2 separate regions of the Homo sapiens genome follow, and region 2 is linked to region 1. Evidence: fine-mapped QTL for protein levels in blood plasma. A gene starts in region 1. The other region holds a variant in brackets. All regions are shown on one strand. Distances are between the middles of the regions. Region 1 holds the start of RNASET2 (ribonuclease T2). Region 2 overlaps RNASET2 (ribonuclease T2).

Region 1 (8,322 bases):
AACACATGACTGGTCTTTTCTGTTTCTCTCCTGTCCTCCTTTTGTCATGGCCACAGCTCAGAATAAAAGAGTTCCACAAAATGTGTACCACAGTGGCCAGGCTGGCATGGCAAGGCCAGAGGTGCTGGGACACCCTGACCAACATGGTCAAACTCCGTCTCTACTAAAAACACAAAAATTAGCCGGACGTGGTGGCACACGCCTGTAATCCCAGCTACTCGGGAGGCTAGGGCAGGAGAATTGTTTGAGCCTGGGAGACGGAGGTTGCTGTGAGCCGAGATTGTGCCACTGACTGCACTCCAGCCTGGCTGACAGAGTGAGACTCTGTCTCAAAAAAAAAAAAAGAAAAAGAAAAAGAAGAGAAAGGGCAGGGAAACACCCAGCAGCTGGCCTCACTTTCTCAGCAAATAAGTAATTCAGGATGGAAAGGAGTTTTTAAGGTGAGATTCTTTCAAGTGTGACAAAGCTCTTTAGAGCATGAGAATCCTAAACTGTGTAGTTGTGCCACTGCTCTGCCATTGGAATGGCCAGCACCAGATATGGGCTGTTCCTACCGCCTGGGTTCCAGAGTGAAAAATACCGTGGACCACAGTGGCATCTGACGCATAGCCAGCATGGAATATGGGCAAATGAATGATAAATGATCAACTTCCGTTTAAGTGAGACACTGAGATTTGGGGGCGGTGTATTATTGTAGCATAACCCAGCAAAAGCTGGCATGGAAACAGGAAACCTGGAGCTAATGCCAAGAAGAGGTTGTGTGGTGAAAGTATCTTGGTCTCTTCAGAATTAACAAGGATTTAAGGATGTCTGTTCATAGACATGGCTGTTGCCATCCTGTCCCCCTCCCCTCTCCTAAGGACATGTTTCTATACAAGCCAGCAGCATCTTTTAAACCTCATAGTTTGTACCCTTTTACACTATGTTGTGTGAGTCAATGTAATTCCCACTCTGGCCCCTGCCCACCTGCTTGATGCTGGAGCCCTCTTTGTTTTCGTAAAGCTGGGCGGCTTCCAGACCCAAATCCAGCCTTTACAGCCACTGCCTCTTCCCTACGTAGGGTTCCGTTTAGGATCCTGGTAGGTGGACAAGTAGTGAACAAGACAGATGACAGATGCTCCAGGTTCACATCCAAGTTTTGGGGGGTTGAGAGCTTTTCCATTTGGATGTCCTTCTTTAAGAACAAGAAGGTAAAATTGTGAATACGGAATGAGATATGGGGTCTTGGTGGGGCCCATGCCAGCAAGGGGCCTGAAGCTCCTCATTAGCTTCCGATGTGGGGGTGGGGGAGTAGAAGTGGGCAGTACAGGAGGAAGTGACAAGAATTCTCAGGGGTGGGGAGAACTGTGTCGAAAATAAACAAGGAAGTGCAACAGGAAATGACTGGGTGGCTTCTTCAGGCTGGGTAGGACGCTGCTGAATTTATCTGATAAAAATCTCCTCTCTGTGAGTTGTGGAAAGTGGCTTGCTGCGAGAGACCCCCTTCTTCCCCACATAACATAGGTAAGAGTGATAGAAGTGATGCAGCTGGGCGCTGTCTCCAAAAAAAAAAAAAAAAAAAGGAAAAGTGACGGATGCTCCCCTCACTCCACCCCCTACCCATTACCTAGGACAAAGCCAGACACAGATCCTCCAATTCCCATTCTTCACCTCATCAATGATGAGCCAGTCAATAGAAATAACACACTTGTTAAGCAAACTTGGTGAGGCTCCTCTCTTCCCCCGAGGCTGAGGACTTTTGGCCTCATCTTAGCCTGAGTCAGTCCCCCCTGAGAACAGGCTGGCCACGGGGTCAACCTTCTCTGATCTAATGTCCTATGAAGGCAGGTTCTCATCCCACTTCTCCATTCCCAGTTCATTCTTTCTCTCTCTTTCTTTTTCTCTCTTTCTTCTTTCTTTCATTCATTCTTTTTGTTGTTGTTGTTGACCGAGTCTCACTCTGTCGCCCAGGCTGGAGTGCAGTGGCGCGATCTCGGCTCACTGCAACCTCTGCCTCCTGGGTTCAAGCGATTCTCCTGCCTCAGCCTCCAGAGTAGCTGGGATTGAGGGAAGAGAGAGACCCTCTCATATTGTTTTATATTGTTTTATACTCAGTACCTGTTTTAAGAAAAAAACAAGGAAGTGAAATCAAAGACAGGCAGCCCGGCGCCAGGCCCAAAACCGGACCTGGGCCTGCCTGGCCTAAACCTAGTAGTTAAAAATCAACTCATGACTTAGAGACCGATGTTATTCATAGATTCCAGACATTGTATAGAAGAACATTGTGAAACTCCCTGCCCTGTTCTGTTTCTCTCTGACCACCAGTGCATGCAGCCCGTCACGTACCCCTTGCTTGCTCAAATCAATCACGACCCTTTCATGTGAAATCTTTAATGTTGTGAGCCCTTAAAAGGGACAGAAATTGTGCATTCGGGGAGCTCGGATTTTAAGGCAGTAGCTTGCCGATGCTCCCAGCTGAATAAAGCCCTTCCTTCTATAGCTCGGTGTCTGAGAGGTTTTGTCTGCCGCTCCTCCTGCCACAGGATTACAGTCGCGTGCCACCCCCGCCCAGCAAATTTTTGTATTTTTAGTAGGGACAAAAGGCCCCCAGGCCCCTGCAATAATGGTCCTCATAACACCACTCCTCCCCGAGTCCAGATTTGCTTTATATTTGGCAGTGGTCACAACAGCCCTCCTTGACAAGGGGCTGTTTAAACACACCGGACTGTGATTTAAAGGAAAATGAGGATTCTGGGAAGCACTTTTGTTTTAAGAAAATTATTTTTTTAGCTTAAAAGAAAAGAGAAAAAGAACTGTGGCGTGTGCCTATATTCTTGAGAGGAAGGAATGAAAGGAGCCGGAAAGAAACAAATAAGTCGTTAGGGAAAAGGAGAACGAGAATAACACCATGACCTGTAGGAGGTCCTGGAGGAGCTAAGGAGGTGTCAGCCATTTTCCCCCCCCATCTGTTCCACAGGTGGCATTTTATTGAGCACCGACTGTCCCCCATCCACTGTGCTCAGTGGCAGGGACTCAAGGTGGGCAAAATAGACATGGGCCTTGCCTTGCAGTCTAGTGGGAAAAACAGATTAATCATTTAAATATTTTGTTTCAAAGAATGGTAATGCATGCAGGCAAGGTCCAGGCCTGTGGGAGAGCAGGCTACAGGCCCACCTGCTATTTAGACAGTTACCAGTGGCAGAGGACCCCGAGGAAGGCGCAGTTTACTCGACGTGTAAATAGGAATAGCCTTAACTAGCTGTGGGTGTGCGGACAGGGAAGGGAAAGAGGAGAAACATCTGCAGAGACAATGCCGGGTGCACAGCCCGTGGGCGGGGCCGCGGGTGCAGGGGAACCCGTGCCTCTGAAGGGCTGGGAAGGCCAGGGTGTTGGGGGAGGAGACCGGGCCTATGGGACTGGCCCTGGCTACGCCAAGGTGGGGCTGACATGAAGTCCCCTTCATCCGTGGGGGGTGGCCCGTCCCTCTGGGAGGGGATCCCTCACAAGATGACTTCCCAGGTCGCGCCCCGAGGCGGCTCTTTGCTGCCCCCACAGAGATGACTTCCGGGCTCCTGGGGCCCGCGGGGAGGGGCAGGTGAGGCCCAGGGCTGGGTGAGGGCCAGGCCCTTCTAGGAATGTTGGTGCTCCCAGCACCTAGCACCGGGAGACTGGAGAGGTTTCCAGGAGAGTGACCCGAGTAGGTCCCCTCCTAATTCTGGAGCCGTCCCTCGGGCTGCGCAGTGGAGCGCCGAGGTGGCGGGAGGCTGCGGGGAGCCTGGGCGGCCAAGCACCATCTGCAGTCAGGAGCTCCCGGGCAGCTTGCAGGGCGCAGTTTTTGAAAGCGGGTGCTGCGTGCGGACCGCGGGCCTGCAGGGTGCGCGGGTCGGGCTGGGGGCTGTCCCTGGAGAGTAGAGTGGCCCTGGGGCCCGCACGCCCACTTGCTGGCGGGGGATGGCGCAGACACGGGCGGTCCCCCCGAGGGCGGTCCTCACGGGTGGTCTAGGTTAGCTCGGACCCGGGAGTGTGGGAGTGGCGCAGAGCTGCGGGAAAAGGCGCGGGGCGCCTGCGTGGCGAAGGAACACAGCCGCCTGACACGCCCTCAAGGCCCGCGGAGCTGCTCCTGCCTCGGCCTCTCTGAGCCAACCACGGGGCGGGGCGTGAACGCCGGGCGGGGACGTGCCGTTCTGGGGGGCGTGTCCACCGGCGGGGGCGTGCCGTCCTGGGGGCGTGGCTCTCTGCTCCGGTGCAGGCCCGCAGGGCGCCCTGGGCTGGGAGCAACGCGACTGACCGTGGTCGTGGGCGGACGGCGGCTGCAGCGTGGAGGAGCTGGGGTCGCTGTGGGTCGCGAAGCAGAGCCCGGGACGTGCGCGCTTGGTGCACGATCCTGAAGGGGAGCTCCGAGGGGCCCGGGTCGCCAGGGCTGCTGCGGCCATTCCCGGAGCCCGGCGCGGGGCCCGCGAGATACTGGTTTAGGCCGTCCCAGGGCTCCGGGCGCACCCGGTGGCCGCTGCTGCAGCGGAGGGAGCGCGGCGGCGCGGGGGCTCGGAGACAGCGTTTCTCCCGGAAGTCTTCCTCGGGCAGCAGGTGGGAAGTGGGAGCCGGAGCGGCAGCTGGCAGCGTTCTCTCCGCAGGTCGGCACCATGCGCCCTGCAGCCCTGCGCGGGGCCCTGCTGGGCTGCCTCTGCCTGGCGTTGCTTTGCCTGGGCGGTGCGGACAAGCGCCTGCGGTGAGTTACCTTGCGAGGTAAAGTGGGGAGCGTGGGAGCCGGGCCCTAGAGCTTTCCACTGGGTGAAGGCTGCAGCTCTCGGGGTCGGCGGTCGCTGAGCCCCGGGCAGCGACTGGGGAGGGCGGGGGGAGCCGAGCACGCTCCGGGGTGACCCCTGGGAAGAAGTTGGGAAGTTGAGCACGCCTCGGGGTGACCCCTGGAGGGAGTGGGTTGGGGGGAGCCCTTAGCACACTCAGAAGTGACCTCTGGGAAGGAGTGCGATGAGGGGAGTCCTGAGCACGCCCCGGGGTGACCTCTGGGAAGGAGTGGGTTGGGGGGAGCCCTGGGCACGCTCTGGGGTGACTCCTGGGAAGAAGTGGGTTGGGGAGCCCTGAACACTCCCCGGGGTGACCCCTGGGAAGGAGTAGGGGGTAGGGTGAGGTCCTGGGTACACTCCAGCCTGGAGCTGGACTGGAAACTCATCCCACAGACTGCTCCCAGCCTAGGACGCGACAAAGCAGGTGGCAGGCTTGGTGGAGCACTGTTCCTGCACTCGAAGTTCTCTCAGAGGTCGAAGAAGTCGTGGAGGGGACACTTAATTTCAGCTTTCACTGCGGCGGGTGGTGAAACGACGGTTCTTCCTCTTTTTGAGTATCCTGTTCTGAATCCCTTCCCTTGGCTCGCCCTCCGCGTGTGTGTGTGTGTGCGCGTGTGTGTGTGCGCGTGTGTGTGTGTGCGTGTGCGTTTGTGTGTGCGTGTGTGTGTGCGTGCGTGTGCGTGTGCGTGCGTGCGTGTGTGTGCGTGTGTGTCGTGTGTGCGCGTCTGTGCGTGTGTGTCGTGTGTGCGCGTGTGTGTGTGTGCGTGTGTGCGTGTGTGTGCGTGCGTGCGTGTGTGCGCGTGTGTGCGTGCGTGTGTGCGTGCGTGTGTGCGTGTGTGTGTGTGGCAGCCGCCCAAATTAATTAGGGGTAAACAGGCGGTGCTGCAAAGAACTCCAACTTTAATTCTGTGGAAGATACCAATATTTGAATACCATATTATTTCTTTCTATTTGGGTAATGATCGGGTTAATAGGATTTCTTACTTACATAGTAGGTGTGGAAAAGGTGGGTTTTACTTATTTATTTTTTTTTAGACAGTCTTACTCTGTCACTCAGGCTGGAGTACAGTGGCGTGACCTCAGCTCACTGCAACCTCCACCTCCCGGGTTCAAGCGATTCTCCTGCCTCAGCCTCTGAGTAGGTGGGATTACAGATGCACACCACCACGCCTGGCTAATTTTTGTATTTTTAATAGCCAGGCTGGTCTCGAACTTCTGACCTCAGGTGATCCGCCCGCCTCGGCCTCCCAAAGTGCTGGGATTACAGGCGTGAGCCACTGCACCCGGCCAGGGTTTTACTTTTTAAACACCTTAGGTATATATTTTTAATCATGTACATTAAAATGTAGCATTATATTTCAGTGTTCCGGAAAGTGTATTTTCTGAAAAAGAGCTACATTTATGTCCTTATTTATTGGCCATGAGGTTCAGAGCCTCTCACTGGGGAAGTCTGTGGCATGCTGGCCCTTGCTGGCTGAGTGGAAACTGCTAGTTCACACCCAGGTGTGGGACCTTTGAGCTCTCTATGCCCCAGTTTCCTCATCTGTAAAGTAGAAATAGTAACAGTCAGCCTCACAGAGTTGGCTTCAGGAGAAATCAGTTAAGGTACAGAATGTAACTTGGAATGATGTCTGGCTGGAAGTAAACATTAGCATAAAACAGGCTGTCATATGTGGATCCCCCACCCCAGCCCATAATTCATGCAACTGATATGATCGGACAAACTTGAGCAGGCAAGATTTGCGAGAACATGGTTGATTCAGACCACGAGGGCTTCATAGGTCAGCGGGCATTTTCCCAAGTTCTAACTGGTTTTGAGACCTTGGTGATTTTTCTTTCTTCTTTGACTTTCTTTAGCTTCTCCATTACTTTCTCCGTGAATAGGGGAGGGGGGCATCTGTGTGGGAGGGGGTCTCCTGCAGTCACATCACTCTGCCTGGTTTTAGATGGAGAGTTTGTTACAAACGTCTGAGTCTTGGTAGTTTTGTTGTAAGCATATTGATAGTCTCATCTTCCTGGGTGTTGCTAAGCTTTCCAGCCTCAGGTTCCGACTATGTAAAATAAGGTTTTTCACCCAAGGGTAAAAAATGCTTTACCAGCTCCAATTCTCACCCTGCAGCTCATCCTTTTTTTTTTTTTTTGAGACAGGGTCTGGCTGTGTAGCCCAGGTTGGAGTGCAGTGATGTGATCTGGGCTCACTGCATCTTCCACCTCCTGGGCTTAAGCTATCCTCTTGCCTCAGCGCCTTCCAAGTAGCTGGGACTACAGGTTCATGCCACCACACCTGGCTAATTTTTGTAGAGACAGGGTTTCACCATGTTGCCCAGGCTGGTCTTGAACTCCTGAGCTCAAGCAATCCTCCTGCCTCTGCCTCCCAAAGTGCTGGGATTATAGGTGTGAGCCACCACGCTTGAACCCTTTTTTCCTTTTATACTGAGAGCTTGCATAATTAGTTCCAATGTACAACTAAGTTTTCATACCATCTTAACTGTAAATTCTATACAAATTCAACAGGACTCAATTATTTACAAAAGCTAATGTGTGACAACTTGATCTTCTTACTTGGAATCTTCCCTTCTAAAATTTGATTTATCCTGAAGTGTCTGCTTGACTTATATCCTGTGTTGCTGCTGGCTTTTTCCATGTGCATTTTTTGCAAGCTGCTCTTTTTACTTCAGTCTCGTTAAGTCTTGCAGTTCTGGCTAGAGGCCTACTGCCATGAATAAGCTGCCGCTCCACAGTGGCTTCTTTGAAGTCTTAGAGTCAGATGAGTTTCACGGTGTTCAGGTTTGTGATCCAGTGTGGCCCCAGGTTCTGGGTAACACGTGTGATGCAGTGCTGTGTGCATACCATGTCGTGAATAACATTCATGATGCAGTGCACATACCGTGTTCAAGTTAACAGTCCTGGTGGCATCTGAAGTAGCACCCTAAAATCAAATGACACAAATTCTGCAGAGAAGCAAGTGAAGTCTAAAAACTGAGTTGGGGTAGTAACGATAAATAGCGTTATGCTAGTTCAGGTTATGTTTTGTTGCCAAATGAATTACAAAAAACTACCAGGTTTCAGGCTTTTATGGGTTTCACGAATGCAGGGGAGGGATCGTGGGTCTGCATTTCTCTTGAGCATCCTTAGGAGAAAGGTGCTTCGTGGCTCAGTGGCTTCCCTTCAGTGAGGCCCTCCCTGGCTGCACTCCTAGCTTGCCCTGCCTCCGCTTCCCCTCCTCTCCCCTCCTCCCCTTATCCTATTCATGTTCTCCGCCACTCAGCACTGGACGCCACCACACGTGCCTTCTTAGTGTAGGGGTGTACCGCCTTCCTCACGGGAGTGTGTGCAGCAGCAGGGCAGGCAGTGTTCCTCCTCCCACAGCACTCAGTGCTGAATGAATGATTGAAGGGATGGATGGGTGGATGAATTTTTTCTGTAACTTTAAAAAAAGTTCTTGAAAAATAAGTTTCTTATGTTTTAACAGTGACAACCATGAGTGGAAAAAACTAATTATGGTTCAGCACTGGCCTGAGACAGTATGCGAGGTGAGTGT
Region 2 (8,322 bases), 30 kb after region 1:
TGCATGTGGGCATGTGCTATGTGTGCATGTGTGTGTACATGCATGTGGGCATGTGCTATGTGTGCATGTGTGTGCATGTCCTGTGTGTGCATGTGTGTACATTATGTGGGCATGTGCTGTGTGTGCATGTACATGCATGTGTGCATGTGCTGTATGCGCATGAGTATACATGTGCGCATGTGCTGTGTGTGCAAGTGTGTACATTATGTGGGCATGTGCTGTGTGTGCATGTACATGCATGTGTGCATGTGCTGTGTGTGTGCATGTGTGTGCATGTTCTCTGTGTGAACATGCATGTGGGCATGTGTGTGCATGTGTGAATGTGTGCATGCATGTGAACGTGCTGTGTGGGCATGTGCGTGTGTGTGTGTGTGTACATGCATGTGGGTATGTGCTGTGTGTGTGCATGGGCCTGTGCCTCTGTGTGAATGTGCATATGAACATGTTCATGTACTGTGTGTATGTGTGCACATATGGGCATGTTCTGCATGTGTGCACAGGCCTGCACATCTGTGTATGTGAGCATGCATGTGTGTCTGTGTGAGCATGTGCTGTGTGTGAGCAAGCATGGTTTCTTGACAGCATGCTAGGACAGGGTTTGTCTTCTTGCTTATCTTTAACAAGAATATACCTGTTCTTTTAGCAATAGGGTACTGTTGCCCTTTTGGCCTACAAAAGCCATTTCTTCTCCTAATATCTTGATAGATATGTTGAGTGCTGTTGTATCTGTGTGTAACTTTGTTAATTTTCTCTAACATAAAAGCAGAGGCTTTTCACCAGGGCACCAGGCTGGCCTCTGGTGGTGACCAGGGGATCCAACCCCCAAGCCCAGCTCCACTGCCCACAGGCGAGTCACCTGGGGCCACTCCTTCCAATTTAGTGCACAGCAGCCTTCTGCTCAATGAAGGGGTCCGTTCTTGGAACCTAGAACCTGTGGTGTGGAGCCTCTGCTTTTGTTATCTTCTAAAAGTTCTAAAAGTTCATGATCTTAAGACCTTGATGATAATCCAAGATCTGAATTCTAAAGCGTCTTTCATTGTTTACTTTTAGGATGAGGAAGTACAGACAATTGGTCAGATAGAACTGTGCCTCACTAAGCAAGACCAGCAGCTGCAAAACTGCACC[G/A]AGCCGGGGGAGCAGCCGTCCCCCAAGCAGGAAGTCTGGCTGGCAAATGGGGCCGCCGAGAGCCGGGGTCTGAGAGTCTGTGAAGATGGCCCAGTCTTCTATCCCCCACCTAAAAAGACCAAGCATTGATGCCCAAGTTTTGGAAATATTCTGTTTTAAAAAGCAAGAGAAATTCACAAACTGCAGCTTTCTAAAAAACAACTCCAAAGTGAAGTCTGTTTATTTTGCTGTTTCCCCTCCATGCCTGTGAATTGGATGTTGTGGTCCCTGTAGAGTGAGTGCATGTGGCGTACACGGGGAGAAAGGAGCTCTCCCACGCCTGAGTGGCTGTTTTGTGCTTGGGATAAAGCTCACAGATTGTTTTTTTTTTTCTCTATTAAACTCTTCAGTGCCCTGGTAGATCAGGCAGGCATACTTGGAATTTAGACAGATGGCACCGATTCAGGGGACTCTCTTGCTCGAGTTTTCCCCTCGGAGCCTGTTGCCTTCTTGGCGCAGGGACCCTGTCAAGACGAAGAGCTCCACGCATGGCAGGAGCCCACGCTGATGCCTGGTGGGCCTGGGGGGTGTCTCTAGCTCAGACTGGGTCTGTTCCATGTGACCAGAGCCCCAGGACATCGTTCCTTAGCCAGCTGCTCCGTTGTTGGAGGCCTGGTGTGGTCACAGGTGTGTCCTAGAACGGTGACTTTGCCCCTCCTGCCCTAGGAGATTTGGGTGTATTCACAGAGCAGCCATCTCCTGTCTCCGTCAGAGCAGTCTCTTCCAGGTTACTGGAAGGTCAGTTTCTGTCAGGCCTCACTTCCTTCTTATCAGAGGGTAGCCAGGTCCCTGCACTGGTATCTATTTAGAAATGTACATGGAGCCCCCAGCGAAATGTGCCTACATTGTGTGTTCCAGAACCGGAGGTACCCTTACCTTCTAGATATGTGATGACATGGCTCTCACGTCAGGCAGACTGCTGCACCCACGCTCTCGGCCTGCCGTGCAGGGATTTCACTCGTGGAGTGAGGCATCTGGGGGCTGTGCAGTGAGGAGCTTTCCATGTGTTGTTAAGACAACCTGTTAGCATTGTCTTCTCCCGCGTCTCCTGGCCTCTTCTCTCTTTAAATCCTTTTCTCTGTTTGTCTTAATCACATTAACGTCCTATTTATGTTTTATTCAATATACATTTAAAATAGAACTTACTATGTGCCAGGCATTGTGTTCAACACGTGAAATATTTAATCCTTAGAATAACCATATTGTCAGCATAATTTACAAAAAAAAAAAAAACAGCTGTATCAATGCCTGTGAATATTCGGCTTTACTCGCCCATTTAAAGAAGAGATTTTCAAATTGGCTCAAACCAAAACCTCACTTCATGGTGTCTACAAGACAGTCTGAAATGCAGAATGTTCAGAGAGAGACAAAGGTTTACCAGGCAGATGGGACGGTGAGAAAGTAGGTGTCGCAGTCCTGATCCTAGACTCAGTGGCCTCTGCGTCCCCCGCAGGCATTAAAGGAGACACAGGACGGCCTCTGGCCCTCTGGAAACAAGCTCTGCAGTAAGAGCCTGAGACAGGCAGCACCCAGCCAGGCCTGACAGCTTCTGCAGACAGACAGAGTGAGATGATGGGGGATTTGATGGAAGCAGTCCCTGTATTTTGTCTCTTCTGTAATGGAGGAGCTGAGCCCTCTTCTGCAAGCTGTGGGGAAGGCTAGCGGAGCCCAAGGGTCCAGGGTCCCCACCTTGTCATTGTCCCTCGGCCCTTCTCTGAGCTCATTTCTGTCTCCAGTGTTTTTCTGTTGGCTTGGCAGGGCAGGATTTGTTTCTGTCGGGAACTGATGATTTGTGTTTTGATGCCTGTGAGAGGGACAAGATCTGATTTGTTTTGCACCTGGAAGGGCGTGATTTCCTGCATTTGCTCTGCGTCCTCAGGGAGTGGGTGTACTTTAGAGTTGGACTCTTAAGCCTCAGAGTCCTTTAAATGATGTCAATTCTTTTTTTTTTTTTTTTTTTTTTTGAGTCATTTTGCGAACACAGGGATCAAGGCTTGGGTTTTATCTTCATTATTCCCAGAGGAGCTGGTGAATTTGAACAGACTTCCTATTCAAATTGCATTTATTTTATAGCCTTGGGGGGTCAAGGAAAGCAGCTCTTCAGAGGCTGTCTGCAGTCGGCTGGCCTTTGCGGTTTTTAAAGAAGCCATTCTTTTTTTTAAGTAGCGTGTATTTATTATATGAGTGTGAGCATTTGAGAGCGGATGGGGACGCCAACAAGGTAGCATCCTGGTGGGAGGCATGGGCTGCGGAGTGCTGGTTTCCTGCCATTGTCACGTCAGCTAAATGGAAGAAGGCACTGGTGAGGGGCTGGATGGTTCAAAACATGAGCACAAGCAAATGCTTGGCTCTCTTAATATTCCTATTTTGGCCTAGAGCTCAGGAGCAGGTAGAACATGAGCGTTTGATAACCTGCCTCAGATCATGTAAGTATAAGGCACTTATGAGCCGCAGGAGACAGAAGGGGAAGACTCTGCGTTTAAGGTTCAGTGATGGAGATCAGATCCAAGCACATGTTTTTACATCATTAAACAAGTAGGTCGTGCATTTTCCAGATTCAACTCAGGAAGATGCAACTCTGACCACACGGTTCTCGCTGTAACTGGGCGGAGGTGACTGAGAAATGCCTCCCATGTGAGCGGGGTCTCAGGCTCGTATGTGTGGAAGGAGGAGCAGGCCAGGCTCTGGGATCAGAGCTGGGGGTACAAGTGTCTCCCAGGGGGACAAAGGAGCAGGCGCATCTCAGGATGGAGAGCAGCCAGGAGGGGCAGCTGGCCCGGGTCTCAGCCAGAGCAGGCGTCTGCCTGGAGCATCTCTGCGGCACCATGGAAAAGAGGACCCGTGGACTAGGCCACAGGGATGAGTGGAACTTATGGTGGAAAAAGACACCATAGGTAAAAGCGAGACAAGAAAACCAGGTTCCCATGAAACTCCTTCAGACCAGCCCCTTCTCAGCAGGGCTATTGCTGTACCCAAGAGCATTTCTCTTGGCCTGGGAGGGGACAATGCTTTGTCACCTGGAAAGCAATCCCTCTCTCCAAGCTAGTAGTGGGAGATCATTATGCGCTTGAATAACTAACAGTAGCAATTGTATCATATTCAGAACTAGATATCTTTTCTTTTCTTTTCTTTTTTTTTTTTTTTGAGACTGAGTCTCACTCTGTCGCCCAGGCTGGAGTGCAGTGGTGCGATCTCGGCTCACTGCAACCTCTGTCTCCTGGGTTCAAGCAATTCTTCTGCCTCAGCCTCCCGAGTAGCTGGGACTAGGCACGCCACCATGCCCGGCTATTTTTTGTATTTTTAGTAGAGTTGGGGTTTCACTGTGTTGGCCAGGCTGGTCTGGAACTCCTGACCTCAGGTGATCTGCCTGCCTCAGCCTCCCAGAGTGCTAGGATTATAGGTGTGAGCCACCGCGCCTGGCCCAGGTATCTTATCTTTCCACCGAAACTTTTGCCTCCATCTCGGTGAATGACATCACCATCCGCTTATTCCAGGTAGAAACCTCAAAGTGAACTGGAAACTTTTTAAAAAAATTTTGCCTAAATTGTGAAAGTATTCTGAATTATATTCAGCTTATCCTTCTCATTACTGACTTAGTTCAAGCCTCAGTCTCCCATCTGGGCCATGCATTGACTGCCACGCCACCTGACTGTCAGTGCTGGACGCTGGCACCGTGTTTGTGCCACTCTCCGTAACCAACCATGGCTCTCTGCTCCCAGATCACACCTCCCCAGTATGGCGGCTCAGGGACATTCCCTCAATCCCTCCTGCCCTGTTGGCAGTGCCTCCACCCACTCCCCACAGCCCATGAGGGCTCTGCTTAGCACTTCCTTGTGCCTGGATTCTCCGCGCAGTTTGGGTGGCCTGGAGTGCTCTTCTGCTCACCTAGTTTAGCAAGTTCCATGGGATATCAACACCCAGTTCCATGGTTGGCCGTTAAGAGTTCTTTTGCAGTCCTGGGTGGCTCTGCGCCTCCACGCCCAGGGACCAGGGCCTCTTCTCTTCCAGCTCTTGTTGTGTTACATAGAAGATGCCAGCTGGATGGCACAGGGGAGGGCCGTACAGTGTAGATGCGGACAATGTGGCATAGGTGAGGACTGGACAGCAGAGACAGTGGCTGCATGATGGAGGTGAGGGCTGGACGGGGGAGGCAAGGGCTGGACCGGGGAGGTGAGGGCTGGACAGGGGAGGTGAGGGCTGGGCAGTATAGATGAGGCCTGGGTGGCAGAGGTGAGGGCTGTGCAGTGTAGGTGAGGACGGGCTGGACAGGGGAGGTGAGGGCTAGGCAGTGTAGATGAGGCCTGGGTGGCAGGAATGATGCCTGGATGGAGGAAGTGAGAGCTGGGTGGCTTGAGTGAGGGCTAGATGGCATGGGTGAGGGCTAAGTGGCATAGATGAGGCCTGGGCAGCGGAGACATGGACTGCGCATCGTAGGTGTCGGCTGGACAGCAAGGGTGATGCCTGGACAGCAGAGGTGAGGGCTGGGCGGCAGGAGTGAGGGCTGGGCGGCAGGAGTGAGGGCTGGATGGCGTAGATGAGGCCTGGGCAGCAGAGGTGAGGGCTGTGCTGTTCCGGTTTTGGGCTAGACGGCAGGGAGAATGCCTAGATGACTGGGTAGAGGCCTGGGTGGGAGAAGTGAGGTCTGGACACTGTGGGTGAGGGCTGGATGGCGTAGATGAGGCCTGCGCGGTGGAGGTGAGGCCTGTACTTCTCCTGCCACTAAATCAAGAGCTGTTTATTGATTCATTCCACACTTTTTTCAACCCTTCCTATGAGCCGCCTCTCTTCTAGGCACTGGGACATGGCCATAAGCAGGGATCTTTTCCTCTTGGGCCCACTCCAAGAGTGGTGGCATATGCCACCATGCCCGGCTAATTTTGTATTTTTAGTAGAGATGGGTTTTCTCCATGTTGGTCACGCTGGTCTCAAACTCCCGACCTCGGGTGATCCACCTGCCTCAGCCTCCCAAAGTGCAGGGCAACAGACGGCAAGGGAAAAGAGGAGCATAGCTGGTGCATTTGATGCTGGTAGGTTGGAGGGAGGGAGGAGGTCAGAGTTATGAAGGCGGCCAGGGAAGGCTTCCTCGGAACCTGAAGAAAGGGAGACAGCAACTGCAGGGAAGGATCTGTGGGCCCTAATGGCCACGTCACACTACAAAGGCCCGGACTTTGTCCAACTCGCTTCTGTGCTCCATGAGTGCACCTGTGTCTGAGGCACATCAGCTCTAAGCCAGTGTTCTCTAGTGATGGAGTGAATAAATGAATAAAATAGAAAAGAGAGGCCGGGCGTGGTGGCTCATGCCTGTAATACCAGCACTTTGGGAGGCCAAGGCAGGCGGATCCCAAGGTCAGGAGTTCGAGACCAGCCTGGACAGTATGGTGAAACTCCATCTCTACTAAAAATACAAAAATTGGCCGGGCATGGTGGCGGGCACCTGTAGTCCCAGCTACTCGGGAGGCTGAGGCAGGAGAATGAATCACTTGAAGCCAGGAGGCAGAGGTTGCAGTGAGCCGAAATCACACCATTGCACTCCAGTCTGGATGACAGAGCAAGACTCCGTTTCAAAAAAAGAAAAAAAGAGAATGCAGCACTGGTCCCAGTGGAAGGTGCCTGCTGTTGGCTTCTCACCACGCCCAGATGAGGAAACATGCAGATCGCCTGTTTTCACTTTTTGTTTCTGCGAACTTTGGATCAGGAATAAAAATAATTTAATGCAGGTCCTAAGGCAGCTGAGAATTGTAATGTAAAATATTTTCAGAATTCAACTATATTGGCTAGATCTATCACTGCAGAAGGCTGGAAAAGACTCAGAAGTTAAAATACTACTTTTCCTCACAAGCTCTAGCTCCTGAAATGAAATTACCAGGATACAATCACAGATATGAAGTCAGTATTTGGGCGTCTATAGAAAAGAAGTCCATTGCATTGCTTATGGGATGAGCTACGTTTCCCATAGAAGGGGCAGTAGTGAGGGTTTTCTTATCTGAAGCAAAATCTCTGACAGATGATGAGAAATGCAGTTTTATGTCATTTTTTTTCTGATAAGAATTCTATTTTTTTTTTCTGAGTGACTGTAATGGGCCTTCCATTTATTTTAGACAAAAAAGACAGAATTAGCATTTTAGGCTCAGATGATAGTTATTAGAAAGTTTGAGATGGGCCAGGCGCAGTGGCTTATACCTGTAATCCTAGCACCTTGGGAGGCCGAGGTGGGCGGATCACTTGAGGTCAAGCGTTCAAGACCACCCTGGCCAACAGGACGAAACCCTATCTCTACTAAAAATACATTAGCTGGGTGTGGTGGCGGGTGTCTGCAATCCCAGCTACTCAGGAGGCTGAGGTGAGAGGATGGCTTGAACCCAGGAGGTGGAGGCTGCAGTGAGCCGAGACTGTACTCAAGCTTGGGCAACAGAGTAAGACTCTGTCTCAAAAAAAAAAAAAAAAAAAAAGGCCGGGCCTGGTGGCTCACGCCTGTAATCCCAGCCCTCTGGGAGGCTGGAGGTTGCAGTGAGTGGAGATTGCGCCACTGCGCTCCACCCTCCAGCCTGGGCAACAGAGTGAGACTCCATCTCCAAAAGAAAGTTTGAGATGGATAAAGTTAAGATCCATTAAATGCTGTATGGACTTTATGCTGACGTGCTTTTCACATTTCAGACCTGTGCATTCTTATGCATTTACATTCCCTTTATTTGAGGGAGCAAGAATTACACAATCACCTTTTCCTACCCGCTTTTAACACTGAGAAAAGTCTGCAGAGTGACAGTGGCCCATTTTTACCAGCAAAGACATTGAACCTGGCGTGTACAGCTTTGGTGGTTGGTACCTGTCACCATCTGCTCTTCTGTCTTGATGACCATATGTCTTGGACTGCACCCTGAGATGTGGGCTGCTCGTGCTGCCCCAGTACTGAACACAGCTACTTGAGCATAGTAGGTGTTTTGAAAATATTTAACCTGAATTGAGAAAAGATAGTCAGCAGTGGCCCAAAGATAACAACATACATCAAAAGTCATGTACAAGATTCAGCCAGTCACCAAGATGCTCCCAATATTCAGGGGCTTGGTACCTCACTAATCAAAACTGAAATGTCACCCGATTGGTTTTTCTCTGAATGTTTTAGAGCAGAATAGACTCAGCCATGGGAAGAGACATTTGAGT

Evidence for each region. PIP is the chance, under the fine-mapping model, that this variant and not a neighbour inherited with it causes the effect. The UK Biobank Pharma Proteomics Project read protein levels with antibody pairs (Olink). The fine-mapping took linkage between variants from a reference panel, not from the people measured, so its PIPs are less certain.
Region 2: its variant is fine-mapped to the plasma level of the RNASET2 protein (UK Biobank, PIP above 0.99). The variant lies in the coding sequence of RNASET2. If it changes the protein, the assay may bind it differently, which can mimic a change of level.

Annotation. Positions count from the first base shown.
Region 1 is chr6:166,952,480-166,960,801 of GRCh38, reverse strand. RNASET2 (ribonuclease T2) reads left to right here and starts at 4,252. Exons shown (of 9, transcript NM_003730.6): 1 at 4,252-4,705; 2 at 8,254-8,314. The coding sequence starts at 4,620. RefSeq lists a cis regulatory region at 1,216-1,502, an enhancer at 2,183-2,302 and silencers at 3,267-3,316, 3,587-3,686, 3,727-4,486.
Region 2 is chr6:166,922,520-166,930,841 of GRCh38, reverse strand. RNASET2 (ribonuclease T2) reads left to right here. Exons shown (of 9, transcript NM_003730.6): 9 at 1,051-8,322. The coding sequence ends at 1,254. Among named protein-coding and RNA genes, the nearest start is that of RPS6KA2-AS1, 23 kb to the right of the region's middle. The variant G/A (reference allele first, on the strand shown) is at 1,126.